4 separate regions of the Homo sapiens genome follow, and all the other regions are linked to region 1. Evidence: fine-mapped expression QTL. A gene starts in region 1. Each other region holds a variant in brackets. All regions are shown on one strand. Distances are from middle to middle. Region 1 holds the start of ELOVL6 (ELOVL fatty acid elongase 6). Region 2 holds the start of LOC124900759 (a long non-coding RNA gene). Region 3 overlaps ELOVL6 (ELOVL fatty acid elongase 6). Region 4 overlaps ELOVL6 (ELOVL fatty acid elongase 6).

What was found. PIP is the estimated chance that this variant, and not a neighbour inherited with it, causes the effect. A credible set is the group of variants that fine-mapping cannot tell apart.
Region 2: its variant is the best candidate, but not a certain one, in a credible set for the expression of ELOVL6 in whole blood (INTERVAL, PIP 0.83).
Region 3: its variant is the best candidate, but not a certain one, in a credible set for the expression of ELOVL6 in blood mononuclear cells (TOPMed, PIP 0.69).
Region 4: its variant is the best candidate, but not a certain one, in a credible set for the expression of ELOVL6 in blood mononuclear cells (TOPMed, PIP 0.58).

The regions. Positions count from the first base shown.
Region 1 is chr4:110,195,946-110,201,378 of GRCh38, forward strand. ELOVL6 (ELOVL fatty acid elongase 6) reads right to left here and starts at 2,670. Exons shown (of 4, transcript NM_024090.3): 1 at 2,302-2,670. The coding sequence starts at 2,390. RefSeq lists enhancers at 368-662, 2,251-3,043 and silencers at 397-506, 707-1,336.
Region 2 is chr4:110,246,610-110,252,042 of GRCh38, forward strand. LOC124900759 (a long non-coding RNA gene) reads left to right here and starts at 445. Exons shown (of 3, transcript XR_007058229.1): 1 at 445-569; 2 at 4,023-4,187; 3 at 5,350-5,433. It also overlaps the pseudogene HSBP1P2. RefSeq lists a cis regulatory region at 2,158-2,572. The variant A/G (reference allele first, on the strand shown) is at 2,417.
Region 3 is chr4:110,148,170-110,153,602 of GRCh38, forward strand. The region is part of intron 1 of ELOVL6 (ELOVL fatty acid elongase 6); the gene reads right to left. Among named protein-coding and RNA genes, the nearest start is that of ELOVL6, 48 kb to the right of the region's middle. The variant T/C (reference allele first, on the strand shown) is at 2,993.
Region 4 is chr4:110,174,196-110,179,628 of GRCh38, forward strand. The region is part of intron 1 of ELOVL6 (ELOVL fatty acid elongase 6); the gene reads right to left. Among named protein-coding and RNA genes, the nearest start is that of ELOVL6, 22 kb to the right of the region's middle. The variant A/G (reference allele first, on the strand shown) is at 2,500.

The sequences.
Region 1 (5,433 bases):
ATAAAGAACTAGGAGGAAACAGTGGTCAGAACCTAACAGGAGTAGATACGTTGGCACATTTTTGTCATTTTCAGTCCCACGAGGGCTGAGACCTGTCTGGCTCAGTACTGAGTGAATGGAGAGAAGAGGCGGGAAATGGTACCTGAAGCAGGCCTAGGAAGTGGCCTCAGAGAAAAAGCAACAAGTAAATAAGAGGCAGTATCGACTGCAGTGGGCTAGGAATGGCGGGCGTACAGTGAATGGGGTCAGCCAGCAAAGCGAGGGAAAGCGGACTCCGGAAGAGCAGGTTAAACCAGGACGCAGCAAGTCAGAGATTCGGCACAGAAGCAAATGCTGACCACACTGACCACACAGGCTAATGCGGGAGGACTGTGGGCCCGAACAGGCCGGCTGGAGGATATGACAAACATGTGCGGAGAAGACCCGGGCCCGGGGCTAGCCAGCAGCGCGGTTCCGGCGCCCGCCGGCTCCGGCCACCGCCCCCTCCCCGCCTCCAGCACCACCCCCTAAGCGGGAGGAGGAAGTGCATCCAGAGAAGGACCCCGGGCGGTGGGGCTCGAGGGGCCTCGGCTGCCCCGAAACGCCGAGGTCTATCTGCGGTCTCGACCCTTAGTGTCCAACCTCCTTCCGGACCCACCCCTGCACCCCCTGGCCTCAGCGGCCCGGGAGGGCACCAGCCCTGTGCCTGTGTGGCTGCTGCACTTCCAGTCCTTCCGAGCGGCCCGCGTCCCCGCCTCTTAGGCTCCGGCTCGGGCCAGACGCGGCCCTTGGGCCCCTAGCCCACCGCCGCCACCAGCCACGCCGCAGCTCACCCCAAGCAGGCCTGCCCCGCCGGTGCGCGCGGCCCAGGAGGCGGGCTCCGCCCGGCAGCCGCCGCAAATGGCCATTGGGGCCCGGACCAGCCCGCGGGAAGCTGGGAGTGGGCGCGCTCCGGCCGGGCGGGAGGAGAAGGAAGCGGCGGCCGGGCCTCCCGACACTGGCCGGCGACTCCAGGGGGCTGGAGGACAGGAAGTTGAAACCCCCTTTTCGCAGCTGCGGCCCCGTGGCACCAGCTCCTACTGCACCAACCCGCCCAGGCCACAGGCGCGCCGGCGTTTCTGGTTTCCAGTTGAAGAGGGCAGGCGGGAGGGCGCGGGGCACGCGCGCTCGCGCACGCGGCGGGCGGAATCCCCCGGCTCCCGGGAGACCCTGCGGCCCGACCCTCCCCGGTCAAGCCATCCCCCGGGCTGCCGGCCCCTTGCCTAGCTCCGGGGTGCGTTGGGCTTGAACTTTACAGATCGCCAGACCCGAAGTTAAGGGGAGGAGAGGAATGCCTCTGCCACAACCCTGTCTACAAGAAGCGAGATGAGCACACCCTCCTCTGTTAAATATTGCAAGGTGACACTGGATCGCCTCCCACACAGGGATTTTCAAAAGGTCTGGCGGGGGGACTACAGTAAACAAGAAAGGTGTTTTCCCTGATTATTAGTTTCCTAGGGAAGAGCCCCTAAGGACTCTGCAGACGGAGGGGCTTTTAATCTGTGTGCCTGAACTCCAATCAGCAGCTACGCACAGAATTAGAAGTGTGTCCAAAAGGCGTTTCCGTAAAACAGAAACTTAATAATGGCGTGGCTCCACTCGCTCGGGTTCATTCATTTATTACTGTTTTCATTGTCCCCTCCTCCCTCCCACCCGGTCTCTCTATGAAACCGGAAAGGGAACCGCGTGGGGAAAGGGGTACTAAAAAGGGGGCATCCGCCTGAGGAGCGGCAGACAGAGGAGGACGGTGAAGTAGGAGCGCTGCAAGGAGAAAGGAAGGACACGAGGGATGGAGAGACAGCGAGGACCAGGGCCAAGGGCGGCGGGCGGGAGAGGGTTAAAGGCAACAGGAGACAAGGTCCTCCCTCCACTGCCTTTCACACTCCGGTTGCGGGAGAGGCCAAGCGAGAAAACCCAAATCTAGATGAAAACCGGGGGAGGGGAGGGGAGCACAGGTAGGCGATCTGGACTGTGGCATCTCTCCCGCCTTCCCTGTCGCGCAGACATCACCCTGTGCACACACATATGTTCTGTGTTATATAATCTATATAAAAGATGCCTATGTAGCCGCGGTTCACACAGGGGCACCCACAGACCTCGCGCTTCATGTACCCCCCCCCCCCCAGCGTCTCCTGCACCCGGGAGACCCGAGAACTCAGCGATCAGCTGGCTGCCCGCGATTCATCGCTCCATTCACGCCCAGGCAGGGAATACCGACATTAAGGCACTCCGGGAAGACGCGCAGGGCTCCCGGGAACAGTATCAGGCGAAAGCATCACGTACCAGTTTTCCTGCATCCATTGGATGGCTTCATTCTCGTTGAACTGCTTTTCGAATTCATATTCTTGTAAAGTCAACACTGACATGTTCATTGGGGCTGATCTTCGGAGTCGCTACGTGTTCTCTATACAAAATAAAATAATCTGTAAAGCGCTTGATTTCGAGTGTTCTCCTGTCTGCTTCCCCCACCCACCCCCCTAGGTCTTCCCCACGCCGCTCGGTCTCCAGCGGTCGTCTCTTCTCCCAGCCTCTCAGCTACATCCAGGGCTGAGCATTGCCTGCGCCTCCGCTCCCAGCTCCTCTCTCTGGGGCTCTCCTCCTCCCGGCGTCCGCATCCACCGTAGGAGGAAATGAATGCCTTGCGGTCTTAGTGCCCGCACGTTTGTCCATCACCCTTTTTACTCGTCTACAGGGAAATCTCCTCCCCCTCGTGCGATTTGAGAAATTAACCCTTGGCGAGGGAGTGTGCGAAAGAGCGCGACCTCTCTCCGCCCGGGGGGGACAGTTTTGTTTACAGCGAAGGTGGTTGGAAGAGTGGGGGAAGGGCGCAGAGAGAAAGGAAGTGGCCTGGAGGTCATCCAGATCCCCTAAGCCCAACCTCGTGGGCCGCCTTGCTTTGAATGAAGTTTCAGCTTGCAGGGCGCATCCCCGCGGCGCGTGGACCCGAGAGCTTGGCGAGTAAACGATTGGGAAATAGTAAAACCTGCCAGCTCTCTTGCAAGAGAACTCCGGGCAAATCTACGTTGAGATCACCAGTGAAGGGAATACGCTTCCCACCTCCTCGCCCTACCTCTGGGACCACCCCCACCCCTACCCCCACCCCCACCCGGGAGCTCTGGCTTAGATTCACGCTAACCCAGGCCCTGCGGACGGCAGAGCTCCTTAATCTCGTACAGACAGGGGATGCTGAGTGTGAGGATAGTGGATAGGCGAGAGAGGCTAGTAGCCGGAAGTGGAAGAAAGGGCTGGGTTAGGTGGAGGGTTTAGGTACCGGGAAGGGGGGGATTAATGAACAGAGGCAGAGTGGGGAAGGAAGCTGACAGGAGAACTGGACCGACTGGCCAAATGCAAAAACTTTATTTGCATGCATGAGAAATTTGGCTTTACTTGCTGTACTTGTAGGTAGAACAGAATATGTGAGGAGAGGGCTGAATGTACTGTTGACCCCTACTGGGCCCTCAGCCTCCAAGAGGAAAAACTATTTTCTATTCCATCCATCCCTCCACTCATTTCCCCCAAGAGTTTGGAAAAATGAAATATGAGACATGGAAGTATCTAATGATGTAATTGTAAACTTTACAAAATAATAAGGAGCCCTGCTTTTAAAAATTAGGTGGATATTAGGACCAGAAAGAAAATTCCCCTTCTGAGAACATCCCCCCACCTCCCCAGTAGTCCAAAAAGGGTACTTTCATTCAATTTAGATGCCTCTAACCCACAAAAAGTGGGAACTGGGAGAAAAATTTTTAAAGGAGGAAGGGACCGGCCGCGGTGGTGGCTCACAGAAGTAATCCCAGCACTTTGGGAGGCCGAGGTGGGCGGATCACCTGAGGTCAGGAGTTCAAAACAGCCTGGCCAACATGGTGAAACTCCGTCTCTACTAAAAATATAAAAATCAGGCAGGCGTGGTGGCGGGCACCTGTAACCTCAGCTACTCAGGAGGCTGAGGCAGGAGAATCGCTTGAACCCGTGAGGTAGAGGTTGCAGTGAGCCAAAATTCTGCCACTGCACTCCAGCCTGGGCGACAGAGGGAGACTCTGTCTCCAAACAAACAAACAAAAAAAAAAAAGAGGAAGGTCTAATGAGAAAGTAAAGAAATAATTTTTAAAATCCAGTACAATATATAGATTAAAGGGCTAGCCTAGTTGATTAGCAAATTAATGTATACATTGACACTGCCAAAGATTCTGTGTAGGGACTGTCCTCATCTCCCCCATTAAGGGTTGTCTTTCTTTTTTCTTTTTCTTTTTTTTTTTGAGATGGAGGAGTCTCGCCCTGTTGCCCAGGCTGGAGTGCAGTGGTGCAAACTCGGCTCACTGCAACCTCCGCCTCCCAGGTTCAAATGGTTCTCTTGCCTCAGCCTCCCCAGTAGCTGGGATTATAGGCAAGCACCACCACGCCCGCCTAATTTTTGTGTTTTTAGTAGAGATGGGGTTTCACCATGTTGGCCAGGCTGGCTGTGATCCACCTGTCTCAGCCTCCCAAAGTTCTGGGATTACAGGCATGAGCCACCATGCCCAGCCAAGGGTTGTCTTTCTAGAGACCTCTACAGTACAAGTCTACGTCACTTTGAAGTAAGGCCCAGGCCAAAACTCTTGGCAAGATTGGGCTGGAAGATAGGTGTGGCCAGATAAGAAAGAACCATTTTAGCACGGTGCCTGAGCCTGTGAATAATCAATAAATATTTGTAAAGTGAATGATTCATCAAATAAATTAAGGTAAGAAGTGAGAAAGGAATCAAGACAGAAAATCCACTTTGGGTGGCTGAGGCAAGACAATTGCTAGAGACCAGACTGGGCAACATAGTGAGGCTCCATCTCTACAAAAAATTAAAAATTAGCCAGGTGTGGTGGTACATGCCTGTAATCCCAGTTACTCTGGAGGCTGAGATGGGAGGATAGCTTGAGCCTGGGAGGTCAAGGCTGCAGTGAGCCATGATCACACCACTGCAGTCCGGCTTGGGTGACAGAGTGAGACCTTATCTCAAAAACAAACAAGCACTGTCAGTGACTTTGAAAACTGGTGACTCTGTATGGAAAGCAATTTGGCAGCCTATATGATAATTTCATTTATTTTTTAGAGATGGGGACTTGTTATGTTTTCCACGCTAGGACTATAGGCACCCAGCATATATCACAATTTTAAATCCACACCATTAATTCACCAGAATTATTTTTTTTTTTGAGATGATGTCTCCCTCTGTTGCCCAGGCTGGAGTGCAGTGGCGCGATCTCGGCTCACTGCAACCTTTGCCTCCTGGGATCAAGTGAGTCTCCTGTCTCAGCCTTCCAAGTAGCTGGGATTACAGGAATGTGCCACCATGCCCAGCTAATTTTTGTATTTTTAGTACAGACAGGGTTTCACCATGTTGGCCAGGACGGTCTTGAACCCCTGACATCAGGTGATCTGCCTGCC
Region 2 (5,433 bases), 51 kb after region 1:
TATAAAAAAATCTGTGGAAAAATGCTGGGTGCAATGGCTCACGCCTTAATTCCAGCACTTTGAGAGGCCGAGGTGGGCAGATCACTTGTCAGGAGTTCCAGACCAGCCTGGCCAACATGGTGAACCTCCATCTCTACTAACAATGAAAAAATTAGCCGGGCATGGTGGTAGGTGCCTGCAATCCCAGCTACTAGGGAGGCTGAGGCAGGAGAATTGCTTGAACCCGGGAGGCAGAAATTGCAGTGAGCCGATGTCACGCCACTGCACTCCAGCCTGGACATCAGAGTGAGACCCTGTCTCAAAAAAAAAAAAAAAAAAAAATCTGTAGAGAAGTATAAAGAAGGGAAGGGGATAAAAAAATCATTCAGAATCCCATCCCACATTTTTCCCATGTCAATGGATAGCTGTGTTTAAAAATAAAACTTTTATATCTCATGCTTCCCCTTTCTTCACTTCTTTATCACATTCTTTTTTTTCCCTATGAGTTGCTGTTTTATAGTCCATTCTCCTGAACAGAAGGTAATAATTTCTGCTCCATGGAAGCAGGGATATTTCAGGAATCAACAAAGGTATGTGAAAATGATTTAAAGATTCCTAAATCGTATGCAAACATAATTTTCTCTTGCTCCCAGTTTTCTTTTTTTATAAAGCTCAGAATTTGGATGAGATGTTCTTCCCTGTGGTTGTTCTGGTTTAGAGTCTGCACCCCTCTTTGTTAACTGGTTAGCTCATATTTCCACCAGGTCCCCTTTCCTCTCTGTGTCTACATAGAATAAATTATCAAGTATTATGGTGTGAAATAGAATTTTGTGATAAAAACTAAGCATCAAAATAATATTACAATAAAACAAACTTTTGTATCTTGTGGATATTGTTATATTTCCTTAACTGTAGTTTTGTTTTTTGAATTATGTTATTTTACCTTGCTATATATTAAGTTTGCTTGAGATTTTCAGCTAAATTCCCTGAGATGAGCTAGTCTTTGCTGTTCAGCCAGGTTTGGAGGTTGTGTGAAACGGGTCTAAAGATCACACCACCTGAGGTCTATTTCCTTTTTTTTTTTTTAAGACGGGGTCTGGCTCTGTCACCCAGGCTGGAGAGCAGTGGCACAGTCATGGCTCATTGCAGCCTCAACCTCCCAGGCCAAAGCCATCCTCCCACTTCAACCTCCAAAGTAGCTGGGACCACAGGCATGCGCAACCATGCCTGGCTAATTTTTTTTTTTTTTTTGTGGAGATTAGATCTCCTTATGTTGCTTTGCCTTGGCCTCCCAAAGCATGGGGATTACCTGTGCCAGCCACTGTGCCTGGTCTTGAGATCTGTTTCTCAAGTATTATGCCACATAGCTTAGAGGTGGAGGTGGGGCAGACAGCCTAGGGGGCTGACATTTCATCTGCACTTCATTCTCTAAGCAGCACATACTTTGCAGATGTCTTTTTCTAATTTCCACGAGAGTGCCCTATGGGCTAGCAGTGACCATGGCTGGGTTGTTGAGGGGGAGGCAGAAGGTCAGTGTGGTCCTTGATGTCATCTGCTGACACTGGCATCCCTTGGAATAGCTGTCATCCTGTCTGGTCCTAAGATGATAAACCATGCAATTGCCTAGACGATCCACATTCCCATTTCCACAGGCCCTTTCTTTTCATCACTCTGTACTGCTTTGTGCTTCTCTGGGGGTGGGGAAGGCATGGAAATTACCCTGCTCTCATGCTGTTCAGGGCACAGGGAAGCTTCTGCCATTGTGTCTGGTACCATCTGCCCAGGCACACTATGCAGTCATTTCTCTTCAGAGCCTCTGCCTGAGCAATGGGGCCAGGTTTTTATTTCTTCCAGAGACTACCGGCCTATCTAGGGGTTTTGACTCCATCCTCGACCTCAGCCAGTCGTGAGCGGTGCAAGATTAAACAGGTCCACGCATGTGTGTGTCTTTCCACAATGTCAGGCTTTTATTAATGCTATTCCAGTCCACGAGCTACATGGAGTTCCCAAGGAGGCAATTCTTAGTACTTCCTGTTCACTCTGTAGTCAGAGCCATGGGCACACAGACTCAAGCCACTCCACAAGTCAGTCAATATTGCAAACCATATATAATAGTATATTTCATCAATATAGAAATGTTTTAGGTTAAACATTCCATGACAAACAAAGTAACATTTAACATCAAGAGGAAAAAGAGATAGGAGAAAGGATTAATGAACCAGTCCAGTGGGAGCTAAGAAGACAAGAGTCCTGGTCACACCCTGGGGTCCCTTTGGTCTCGAAAGAAGAGTTTTTGAGGTGGCAGAGCCTTCGGTGGCAGGTGCCAAATTCTTATCACAAGTGACTGCAAGACAGTCAGTTAAGACAGCTGTTTTCGAGCTGGAGAAGGTCTAATCCTTTACAGTCACAGAGTTCTCTGGCAAGAACTGATAGTGGA[A/G]GAGTACACTTGTTTACATCCTTATCTGGTTGCCAGCAGTCTTTTTTTAATTTGTTTGTTAAACAGAACATCTTATCCTTGTTGGCAAAGTGCTCTATGAAATATAAAATGGAGTCCTTTTTCTTCTTCTTTGAGACGGAGTCTCAATCTGTTGCCCAGTGAGTGCAGTGGCACAACCTCAGCTCACTGCAACCTCCGCCTCCTGGGGTTCAAGTGATTCTCCTGCTTCAGCCTCCTGAGTAGCTGGGATTATAGGCGCCTGCCACCACGACTGGCTAATTTTTGTATTTTTAGTAGAGATGGGGTTTTGCCATCTTTGCCAGGCTTGTCTTGAACTCCTGGCCTCATGATCCACCCATGTCGGCCTCCCAAAGTGCTGGGATTACAGGCATGAACCACCATGCCCAACCAAAATGAAGTCTTTTTCTAAGATGGAATTAGTTATGTCAACTACACAGCCCAAGAGCTGGAGGCAAGTTTCCTCTTTTTGGGACCCATTAGACTCTCTGTTACCACTTCTCTGTTTCCATTGAAGTAAGATAAACTCTTCCTCAAGGCTGAGGACTCTTTTCTAGTCTAGAGGCTGAAGACTGGAGAGAGAAGGGGTAAGACTGGGACATTTCCCTTTTACTCATGTGTTTTCCTCAATATACTGTATGTAGCATGGCTTCTTTTTGACCTCTAAAGCACTTAAGTTTTATTTTTTCATTTTTTATTTTATTTTTAGTTTTCTTCTGCTCACACATCCCAACTGCCTGACCTACGTTTTAAAATCCCAATTCAAGAATAAACTCCTTTAAAGTTTGTTATCTGCTGACACATCCTTCTTCCCAGTCAAGGAACACAGAACAATCCATCTGTCTGAGTGGTGGTGGTGGTTTGTGGGTGAGGAGGCAAAGGGCAGGCTGGAGAAGAAGATACCACCATCCCGCCCATGCATGGGGTATGCGGGTATGGCAGTGCCTTAAGATTTAAAAATATTTAATACATATATTTTTTCTTGTGCTTTTTTCTTTTTTTAAGTCTTAACTGATGCCTTTAAAGGAGTATTTCCTCTATTTAAATAATGTAAGAACCCTTGTAAAATGAAGATCATTCGGCATATCCCTGGGGATGAATCAGATTCATTGAACTGCGATTGTGCAACTGTGCTTTCAGGCAGAGAGTGCTCAAAGGGTAGAACGGCTCTTTTGGAATTCTCAGATATATTTGGCCAGGTTTACCTAGAGGAGAACACGTTGTTTTTAATGAAAGGGATTTAAAGTCACAGTGCACCTTAAGGTGATGACTTTCTGAATGGATGCTCTTTCATGAGACCCAAGTTGCGAGGGTGAGTGCAGGATTGTTTCCTCTTGGAGGAACCCTGATAATCTCTTTGCCTCTCTTTCCTTGAGATGCTTTTCCTTCCATGAAATTTCATGGAGGTGAGGACAAGTCAGCTTGGAGATCATCGTCTTCCTCTTTTGGGCTGTCTCTTTATTCTCTCTTTGGAATCAATCACTTCTAGTAATCCAGAAAATTGGGGAAAGGCTGGGGTGTTTCTTATTGGGAAGAAAGTTTTTTTTTGCATGTGTGTGAGAATGTTTTTCCTTTTTTTTTTTTGCAGTATAATTTACATGCAGTGATATGTACAAATCTTCAGTGAATGGGTTGATGAATGTTTGCCTATGTATACCTACATGTAATCACTACTCAGATCAAAATAGACAACCTGTTCACGACACTGAAAAGTTTTCTAGAGCCCCTTTTCAGTCAAGACCCATTCCTCCAGGTAACTACTATTTTGATTTCTGTCATCTCTTGGGTGGGCTCTTTGGCCTTGTGTGGGTTTCTTCTCTTCTAACAGCTGGTGAGGTAAGCTGGCCCTGCTATTCCCCAGGCCTGAGAAGAAAGAAGCCAGTCTCTGGGAATTATTTAGAAAATTCCAGCCCTCCTCTTCTGTCTTTCAGAACAGAACTTTTTGTTGGATAAGCTTTTTGTTGCTGCTGTTTTTTGGTGGATGGGCTTTTCCTTCTGGAGTGGAAAAGTCTGAGGCTCAAATGCTTAGGGAGAAAGAGCCAAAGTAGGTCCTTTGGCGTGTTTTGGTTCTAGGCTGCACTTGGTTGTCTGAGACAAATTATTTCTCCAAATAGCCCATGCTAATTTATCAATAATAATGCTTTTACTATTTTTCACAATCTACATTCTTCCACTCAATAATATTAATACCCTATCTACTATAATCTATGGCTGGCAATGATGATGTGGATTTAGGTTGTAATAGATGTAATATATGCTTTGACTTGAAAAATGCTGTTAGGGATGTGTAGGTGCTGAGATGTAAGCACTATAATGCTTATATTTTGTTCTGAAGATTTCTTTAAGGATTTCTAAACTCACTGGTTGAAGGGCTGAAACACATGAGACACTGGGGTTGAAGAAGCCTAGCCTAGCAGACACTTAATTTATTCCAACCCCAGTCTTGATGGAGGTTGATGCAAGCTGTTGAAGAAAGGACAAGACTTGACCCAAGCACCTGAGGGTGGCCTCCAGTTGGGTCAAAGAAGAATAGGAATTTGGGAAAGTAAAACTGTGTTTTTTTTTGTGTGTTTTTTTTCAGGAACCAGCAAAGTTTTAATGTTTAATCGTTAATAGCAAAATTGACCAAGGTCCAAGATGTGAAGATACTATGTTTAAGAAACTGGGGGGTAAATCACTCTATAGACTAACTATATAGTATGTGATAAGAATGCACACTTTTTATAAAACCTGTATACACATAGTAGTTAGCTGCAAAAACCCATTCAATCTTCTCTTGGCTTGGAAAAATGGTGTTCCAGATTTCAGTATAAATTATTAGCAACCTTCACCTCTTGTGTGGCAGGTATCTTGTTTTTACTTTCCAGTTCTTCCACCCCAGCCTGTGTCATGAGATCTGCGATGTTCTTTTCCAGATCATCAGTGCAACTACTCATATCATCAGTTCTCCCAATGATCTGGTCAGACATGGTCTGAAATTTATCTTGGATCTGCTGCAG
Region 3 (5,433 bases), 48 kb before region 1:
AACAGACATTTTTCAAAAGACAAACAAATAGCCAAGAAGCATATGAAAAAATGTTCAAAATCACTAGTCATCAGAAAAATTCAAATTAAAACCACAGTGAAACATCATCTTATACCAATCAGAATGGCTATTATTAAAGGACAAAAAATACATGTACAACATGGATGGAACTGGAGGTCATTATGCTAAGTGAAATAAGCCAGGCACAGAAAGACAAACGCTGCATCTTCTCTGTTCCCACTTATTTGTACAATCTAAACAGTTGAACTCATGGAGATAGAGAGTAGAAAGATGGTTACCAGAGGCCCAGAAGGGGGTTGTGCGGGGGAGGGGGGGAGGTAGGAATGGTTAATGGGCACATACGTAAAAAAATAGAAGGAATGAATAAGACCTAGTATTTGATAGCACAACAGGGTAAGCATAGTCAATAATTTAATTTTACATTGAAAAATAACTAAGAGTATAATTGGACTGTTTGTAACACAAAGGATAAATGCTTGAGGGGATGGATACACCATTTTCCATGAAGTGATTATTATACACTGCATGCCTGTATCAAAACATCTCATGTACCCCATAAATATATACACTTACTGTGTACCCACAAAAATTTAAAATAATTTTTTTAAAAAGGACAAAAAAATAACAGATGTTGGTAAGGATGCAGAGGAAAGTGAACGCTTATATACTTTTTGTTCTGTTTTATTTTGAGACAGAGTCTCGCTCTGTTGCCCAGGCTGGAGTGCAGTGCTACCATCACAGCTCACTGCAAGGTCAATCTCCCAGGCTCAAGCGATTCTCCTGCCTTGGCCTCCCAAGTAGCTGGGATTACAGGCACAAGCCACTATGCCCAGCTAATTTGTTGTATTTTTAGTAGAGACAAGGTTTCACCATGTTGCTGAGGCTGGTCTTGAACTCCTGGGCTCAAGAGATCCACCCATCTTGGCTTCCGAAAGTGCTGGGATTACAGGTGTGAGCCACCGCACCCAGCTCTTCTGTATTGTTGACGGGAATGCAAATCAATTAGTACAACCTGTATGGAAAACTATGGAGATTTCTTCGAGAACTAAAAATACGACTAACCTTTGATCCAGCAATCCCACTGCTGGGTATACACCCAAAGGAAATGAAATCATTATATCAAAAAGATACCTGCCCTTTTATGTTTATCACAGCTCTGTTCACAATATCAAACATATGGAATCGACTTAAGTGTCCATCAGTGGAGGACCGAATAAAGAAAATGTGTTATGTGTACACAATGAATACTACTCAGTCATAAAAAGATTGAGATCATGTCTTTTTCAGCAACATGTATAGAACCGGAGGCCATTATCTTAAGTGAAACAATTCAGACACAGACAAATACCACATGTTCTCACAAGTGGAAGCTAAATAATTTGTACAGAAGAAGCAGAGTGTGAAATGATGGACAATGAAGACTTGGAGGCATGGGGTGATAGATGATGGCAGGTTGCTTGGTGGGTACGAAGTGTGTTGCTCCACTGATGGATGCAATGAAGGCCTGACTTCACCACAATGCAGTATATTCATGTGACAAAACTGCACTTGTACTCCATGAGTATAAATATATATCTCTTCCTAATACTGGTATTTATCTGCCTACATAGAAAAATCTCCACTTAGAAAAGACCAACATAGAAAAACATGTTGTAAGCACCCCAAAAATAATTAATAAATGTATTCATTTTCAAAGACTGTATCCTATAGATTTTTGAGAGCGTAAATAAATGCCTTCTTAAATCTTGAATTTTTCTTCCCCTTAAAACAAGTACATCATGTAGTGAGAGTGAACAGTTATGTGTTTCAGATTTGAAAAGTAGAAATTTGAATGGAAACTGTTTCTTTTTTTTTCTGCATTTACTTCATGCATTTTATTTTTAGTTTTAGTTTTAGTTTTTCATAGAGACACCGTCTCACTATGTGGCCCAGGCTGGTCCTGAACTCCTGAACTCAAGCAATCCTTCTGCTTCGGCCTCCCAAAGTGCTGGAATTACAGGTGTGAGCCACCGTGTTCAGTCTACTTCATGTATTTTCAAAATAATCCTGAAAATGCATTCAGTAAAACCCCTCCACAAATTCATTATACTCAAATTCATAAGACATTCTCCTTGCCTAAACTGTCAGACTTAAACAGACAGGCGACAAGAAATAAACTCACAAGTTTTGGATTCTTTGCTTACAGATTGATCTAGATGTGTTTGAAATAGTTCTCAATCTAATAAATACCCAAACATACTGGCAATTTCCATATTATTGTATGTTACTACAATTTTTTCTGGCAAAAGGGAATCTCAAACTCATTATCTGTCAATGGCTAATTTCTGAAACAGATGATTTCTCAGCAATTAGGGAATGTTAAGCAAAATATTGTCAAAAATACTCCATTTTTATTTTTAAAACTAAAAATGCTTAAAATTCTAAGAGCAGAATAATTAAAACATTATTCTTGACATTATTTAAATGACTTTAGATACTCTTGCATTGTATGATCCTTTCATTTCCAAGCTTTAATTTTATTACTTAGTGATAATAGATATTCATATTTTAAAATAAAAATACAGTTTTAGGGCCGGGCACGGTGGCTCAGGCCTGTAGTCCCAGCACTTTGGGAAGCCGAGGTGGACGGATCACCTGAGGTCAGGAGTTTGAGACCAGCCTGGCCAACATGGTGAAACTCTGTCTCTACTAAAAATACAAAAATTAGCCAGACGTGGTGGCACATGCCTGTAATCCCAGCTACGCAGGAGGCTGAGGCAGGAAAACTGCTTGAACCTGGGAGGCGGAGGTTGCAGTGAGCCAAGATCGTGCCACTGCACTCCAGCCTGAGAGACAGAGGAAGACTCCGTCTGAAAAAAAAAAAAAAATTTAAAATATAAACTTTAACTTTGAAATTCTTAACTGAATTTCAGCACCTTTTAATTGCATAAATTCTACATGACTAAAGATTTCAATATTTTTTAATACAGGT[T/C]GAGTATCTTTTATCCAAAATGCTTGGGACCAACCAGAAGTGTTTCAGATTTCAGATTTTTTTTTTTTTGGATTTTGGAATATTTATATATACATAATGAGATATCTTAGGGATGAGACCCAAGTCTAAACACAAAATTGATTGTTTCATATACACCTTATAAACATAGCCTAAAGGTAATTTTATATAATAATTTTAATAATTTTATGCATTAAACAAAGTTTTGTCTGGACCTACAACTTGAGGTCTGGTGTGGAATTTTCCACTTTTGGTGTCATGTTAGCACTCAAAAAGTTTCGGAGTTGAAGCATTTCTGATTTCAGATTTTCAGATTAGGGATGTTCAATTTGTACCATTGTTATATTAATGAGTTGCCAATAAGATCAGTATTTGGGTTTGACCTATGGGATAGATGCTTGGGTGTGTCAGAAGACTTCTATATATGTAATTATTTACCAAAAGGCCAATAATGATGTTGAGATTTGACATGCCTGCCCATTAAGAGACAGCATTTGTGGGCCATAAAGAAGTCTAAAAGGCAATCTTGTATCATAAATAAGAGATGGACTTTTGAATGAGAGATCCTAGACTTAACACCTGCTTCTCCCACTTACTAGCTGTACAATGTTTGGTGAATTACTTAATCTCTTGGTTTCTGAGTTTCCTCGTCAGTAAAAAGGAGATTTTAAAAGTCCGTTGTTGCCTAGGACTGCTGTGAAGATTAACTTAGATAATGGATTGTACAGGGTACATTTAATCATCAGTCAGTGAATATTAATATTACACAAGTTATAGCATTCAACAACTAAAAAGTCCTTATCTGAAAATATTGGCATCTCTAAGTTCTAAACTGGGTAGAAATCCTAGATGTAAAATAAAAGGGAGTTTAATACAGAGTAACAGTAAGATAAATATTCATGAGAAGATTCATTCTAAATAGCTGACTGCTATTGATTTGGCTCTTGGCCCTCCCATATGCCCCCCCAAAATATCTTTAAAACTTAATATTGGTTGGGTTACCCTATAATAAAGTTTCCTTAAAGACTATCAAGAGGGCATACCTTATGTCATATCAAGTCCTATTATGGACACTTCTCTTTGCAGAGAATTAACTAAATACACGATCAGAGACAAAATGATTGAGGAAAAAACCCATCTATCACGGTAGAGTCTCCTGTATTATTTCCTGGCATTATATATATAGCTGCTATTGTCATCCTATTAGAATTATAAAACCTTTACTTTCCCAAATCTTACCTCTCTGACACCCAGCTCAGGATCACCTTTGTTTTAAAAAGAACAAAGGGTTCTCTCAGTCACTGAATGAGAATTTATTCCGTGAAAATACAGATAGTGCCACGCCCGGCCTTTCTGCCAGGCAGTGATGCCTGATACCAGAGCTTCTCACACTGTGGATATATTTGAACATATGAAACACCTGGGAATCTTGTTGAAATGCACATTCTGATTCAGTGGGTCTGGGGTGGGGCCTGCCTGAGATTCTGCATCTCTGGCAAGCTCTGCAGTGATGCTGCTGGTTCACATACACAGATCACACGTAGAAGTAGTGAGGATTGTGACAACCAGGTTGCTATATATAGTGTATGTGAGTGTGTGCGTACACATGCACTTATGTTAGAAGGCTAAAAATATTTCAGAAAATTTTAGAAGGGGAAAGCATTTTACTGCACTGTCCTAGAAACCTTATTTCAAAATGAACATTTCATTCTTTCAAAATTTGCTTTTTCAAATTAGCAAAGACAATCCTTCGTCTCTCAAAAGGAGGATGCCAAACCTATGTGACCCCTCCGTGAGTATAAACACTGGTCTATTGAAGAGCAGGAATGACACAGTAGTTGACGAACCACTTCTTTTTGATGTGCCTTTGGGTATGGTTTTGAAAATAAGAAATTCACATTTTAATGATGATCAGGCAGCACAACCTGTGTCAGCTTGTAAGTAGGAAACCAGAACCCTGACAGAGATGAAGAAACAATTATAACCAAAATGTACATTATGAAAACTTTCTGGTATCACTGTTAAGATTTAATAATAATAGTGAAAAGGGAATTATAATTACAGTAAAATTGTGGTACACATACCATTCTGCAGAAAGTAGGTAGCTTCCATAACTTATGAGACCTTATACATAATTTAATTTTTTGCTCAAAATATTAATCTTCAAAATACAATGACAGCAATTACTACCTACTTATCTCTTTTGAGTGATTTAAACTTTAATAGTGTGATAATTTAAATGCTACTTATAGATGGTGGGCTAAAACTTAATTGATAATTAATAGTGGAGGATTAAAAATTGCCACAGTTACAGATGATGAGAAATGTACTTATTGACATAAAATCCAACAAGGGTGATCAGCTGAAAATGCCATGTAAAAAAAATTATAGCCAATAAATGCTCCTTTCAGATTCATAAGCTG
Region 4 (5,433 bases), 22 kb before region 1:
CTCTGTTGTTCAGGCTGGACTGCAGTGGCGTAATCTCGGCTCACTGCAACCTCCACCTCCGCAACTCAAGAGATTCTCCTGCCTCAGCCTCCTGAGTACCTGAGATTACAGGCCCATCCCACCATATGCCCGGCTGATTTTTGTATTTTCAGTAGAGATGGGGTTTCACCATGTTGGCCAGGCTGGTCTTGAACCCCCGGCCTCAAGTGATCTGCCTGCCTTGGCCTCCCCAAGTGCTGAAATTACAGGTGTGAGCCACTGCGCCTGGCCTTCAGGCATTTTAAATATATATTCTCATAATAATGAATGCTTTTACTTTTGAACATACATTTTTTAAAAAGGTCAAATGGTATCTCTTTTTGCCTGTGGCCCTACTGAATCAGACTAGACTTACCAAGTTTTCTATTGACCTTAGAATTCCTGATGTGCTAGGTTGACATTCCTATAATGTCAACACACGTTCACTAAAATGAATTTGCTTTTCTGCTATAAGACCTATTAGTCACAGATGGAAATTCTACAACTATAGAATACATGTAAAGCACAAGAAATTGTCACACTATATAACATGACCTTTACCTACATTTTTACTTTTGCTTCAAAGTTGGCATATTTAGATTTAGATGCACCTAAAACCATCCCAAGAATATAATGCACTAAATGAACAACCTAATTATTCTTATAGAGTGCAATTAACTCATAGGATACTTGTTAGTATCCTATGTATTAACTAATCATTCCTTTCGCTTCTTCTTAATCTAATTTTACGGACCAAATAATCTAAGAATGTGTAAATTCCATGTATGTTATAATTTGTTTATACTATAAATATAATTTATAATTTAAAAAACTAAAAAAAAAAATCAAATCACTGTTGGGCTCATATACAATCAAGACATAAGTATCGGCCAGTCACAGTGGCTCATGCCTGTAATCGCAATACTTTGGGAGGCTGAGGCGGGCAGATCACTTGAGGCTAGGAGTTTGAGACCAGCCAGCCAACACGGCGAAACACTGTCTCTACAAAAAATACAAAAATTAGCCACGCGTGGTGGTGCACGCTTATAATCCCAGCTACACGGGAGGCTGGGACATGAAAATCGCTTGACCCCAGAGGGAGAGGTTGCAGTGAGCCAACATTGCGCTACTGCACTCCAGCCTGGGCAACAGAGCAAGACTCTGTCTCAAAAAAAAAAGACATAAATATAATGTTCTCACCTATAAAATGGAGATGAAAAATCCTATTTTATAGGGTTGAAGGAGACTATGAGATAAAGTAAATGTAGTGTGTAAAATTTTAAATACTGACATATGTAAGTAACATCAATGATAACAACATAACTAAAACATATACAGCATCAGTGAAAGCTTTACATATATTAACTCATTTAATCAATATAACAACTCTTATCAGGTTAGTTTATTATTATTAAACTATGCTTTATAGAAGACTTTTACCCTCTCCAAGGTTACAAAGCTGAACAAGGATCAGAACTCAGGCAGTCTAGCCCTAGAGTTACATTACATCTATCATCCCTCTTTATGATGTTACTATCATATGATCCAACAGAGACAGTAACAGCAAATAAAGTCTAAGTCATGCCTTCATAGGAAGGGTAAGTGAGATCTTTATTATGTGCTGAGTAACTGATGATGAATGATAGATTCCAGTATCAATGGTCACAGAGCTTTCTCAATGTGGGGTCATGTTTTAGGATCTCATGTCATGTAATGTGTAAAACTATTCTTTCTTAATCATTTGTACTTGTTTAAATCATTATTCTTCCACTTCCATTAGGAAGTTTGTATCTAGAGCTCTCCTCATTGGCATAGTGGTGAGTTAAAAAAAAAAAAAAAGAACAAGAAAGTATCTAGAGCTCTATCTTCAGAGATTAAAGAGTAATTTACTCAATAGTTTACATTTAACAACACCATGAATAAATCAATGTTTCTACCTTATTTATTTATTTATTTATTTATTTTTTGAGATGGAGTCTCACTCTGTTGCTCACGCTGGAATGCAGTGGCGTGATCTTGGCTCACTGCAACCTCCACCTCCCAGGTTCAAGTGATTCTCCTGCCTCAGCCTCTCAAGTAGCTGGGACTACAGGCACATACCATCACACCTGGATAATTTTTGTATTTTTAACAGAGATGGGGTTTCACCATGTTGGCAGGCTGGTTTCAAACTCCTGACTTTGTGATCTGCCCACCTTGGCCTCCCAAAGTGCTGAGATTACAGGCATGAGCCACTGCGCCTAGCCTCAAAGTTTCTATTTTTTTAGAAGAAATTTCCATTTGTGAAGAGTCATGTAAAAAGTCCCAACATGATTTTTACCGCAACCTGAAATTGTTTCTTTCTTCTGAGAGTATACATTTTTGTGCTAGCGTGGTCAAAGATAACTTATAGCCAACCCAATCCCCCTCCTTTGCCAACAGATAAACTTTACCCGATATTGTGTGGAGGGCAATGTGCCTGGCCCTTGAGAGACAAAGTGC[A/G]AGACTGGTTTAAGCCTCTCAAGGCGATCACTCTCTTTGTCATTCTTTGTCATTATTTTTGAGATGGAGTTTCATTCTTGTTGCCCAGGCTGGAGTGCAATGGCACGATCTCGGCTCACTGCAACCTGTCTCCCAGGTTCAAGCGATTCTCCTGCCTCAGCCTCCCGAGTAGCTGGGATTACAGGCATGTGCCACCATGCCCAGCTAATTTTGTATTTTTAGAAGAGACAGGGTTTCTCCATGTTGGTCAGACTGGTCTCGAACTCCTGACCTCAGGTGGTCTGCCTGCCTCGGCCTCCCAAAGTGCGAGATTACAGGCGTGAGCCACCACGCCCGGCCTCTTTGTCATTTAAGAGTTGGTGTAGGAAAGCAATCCCCATCCTCTGTCAGTGAATGGTCCAAGAGTGAAACACATCACCAGGCCTGGCTGATGGCATGAAATTATAGCAATAATAAGAGCAGATCTAGGCATGTTGGCTCATGCTTGTAATCCCAGTGATTGAGAGGCTAAGGCTGGAGGATTTCTTGAGGATAAGAGTTCAAGACCAACCTGGGCAACATAGCATGACCCCATCTCTACAAAAAATTTTAGAATTTGTCAGGTGTGGTGGCATGTCCTGTAGTTCAAACTACTTGGGAGGCTAAGATAGGAGGATCATTTAAGCCCAGGAATATGAGACTGCAATAAGCTGTAATCATGCCACTGCACGCCAGCCTGGCTGACAGAGTGAAACATTGTTTCTTAAAAAATAAATTAATAAATAATAATAATAATAATAAAATAAGAGCATATCCTTTTATAAACTTACTGAGTGCAAGTTGGCTTGGAGGCTTTGCCTTGACAAGAAAGCAAATAAAAAGGCTCCCATGCCACTGCTCCTTTCTTTCTGCTTGAGATGCTTGTGTGGGAAGCTTGGTGATATGGCAGCCACCTTGTGACCATGAAGAAAAAACTATTGACACATTATGAATGGCAAAACGGAAACTCAGATAGAACCTAGGTCATTGATAACATTATTAAAACCACTAAACAACCACTGAGGCTTCCAATCAAAGTTATTGTTATGTGAAATAATTAAAAGTCTTCATGTTTTAGGCTACAGTTAATTAAGTTCTGTTACTTGCAGTTGAAAACATCCTAAAAGTTCCCTGATTGGCATAAATGTTCTTCACACCAAACTGATGAGTATTACCCAAAAATGACATAATCCATGAAGAAAATAATCTGAAACTTATTGCATTTTGTACCTGACTGGTCAAACTTAAAACAATTGTAATACTATTATTCAGTATATTTTGTGTTTCTCTAAAGCTACTAGTTTTCTTTGCCCTGTCGTCTAAAAATGATTAAAAAATAATGTGCTACCTAAAAAGAGTGAGATGCATCTCCTCAAGCTTTTCATGTGTCAGCCAGAACATTACATTAAAGAAACAAATTCTCTCATTTACAGTTTGGTGCAGGAAGTATTTAACAACATGCAGAAATATCCATTCTATATATTTCTTAAAAGTTAGGCTACAGAAAAATATGGTATGAAAACTATGATAATATTTTTGTAAAAAAGAAAACGAGCCGTGCACAGTGGCTCACGACTATAATTCCAGCACTTGGGGAGGCCAAGGTGGGCGGATCTTGAGGTCAGGAGTTCGAGACCAGCCTGTCCAATATGGTGAAAACCCATCTCTACTAAAAAAAAATTAGCCGAGTGTGGTGGCGCACGCCTATAGTCACTACTACTTGGGAGGCTGAGGCAGAAGAATCGCTTGAACTGGGGAGGTGAAGGTTGCAGTGAGCTGAGATGGAGCCAAGATCGTGCCACTGCACGCCAGCCTGAGTGACAGAGAGTGAGACTCCATCTAAAAAAAAAAAAAGGAAAATGGGCCAGACGCGGTGGCTCACACCTATAGTCCCAGCACTTTGAGAGGCCAAGTCAGGACTGCTTAAGCTCAGAAACTTGAGAGCAACCTGGGCAACATAGTGAGACCTCGTCTCTACAAATAATCAAAAAATTAGTCAGGTGTGGTGGTGCTTGCCTGTAGTCTCAGCTACTTGGGAGCCTGAGGCTGGAGAATCACTTGAGCCAGAAGACTGAGGCTGCAGCAGCCTCGGTGACAGAGAGAGACTCTGTCCTAAAACAAACAAACAAAAACATAAAGATGGATAAAAAGTTTTGAAAGACTTACACCAAAATGTTAGTGTATATCTCAGGGTGACATTTGTTTTCTTCTTTTCACTTGTGTTTCTTAAATTTTCTACAATGTATTAAAGTTACCTGCTCCAAGCCTATCCACAAGAAGCAGAAAACTACAACTGATAATGTTTATGCTTTTACAAGTGTCTCTGCAAAAGTATGTATTTTTTTATTTATCAAGATGAATCCTAGTAGTTCTCTACGTTAGGTAAAATCTTTAAAAAAAAAAAGATTATATGTATACCTTCATAATTCTAGGCCTCCAGATACATACAATTTAATTGACGAGACAAATAAAATACATGTATGTAAACTTCAGAAAATAGGGCAAAAATAGGCCAGGTATAGTGGCTCATGCCTGTAATCCCAGCATTTAAGGAGGCTGAGGTGGATGGATCACCTGAGGTCAGGAGTTCGAGACCAGCCTGGCCAACATGGTGAAACCCCATCTCTACTAAAAATACAAAAAATTAGCTGGGTGTGGTGGCACATGCCTGTAATCCCAGCTACTCAGGAGGCTGAGACAGGAGAATTGCTTGAAACCGGGAGGCTGAGGTTGCAGTGAGCCGAAATTACGCCACTGCACTCCAGCCTGGGCAACAAGAGCAAAATTCCATTTCAAAAGAAAAGGGCAAAAATATTAAATCATTAAACCCAAATGAAATAAAGAGAAAACAAGAATATTTATTTTCATTTTCACATGAAAAAATACAATTTAAGCTAATATTAAAGACAACTAGCA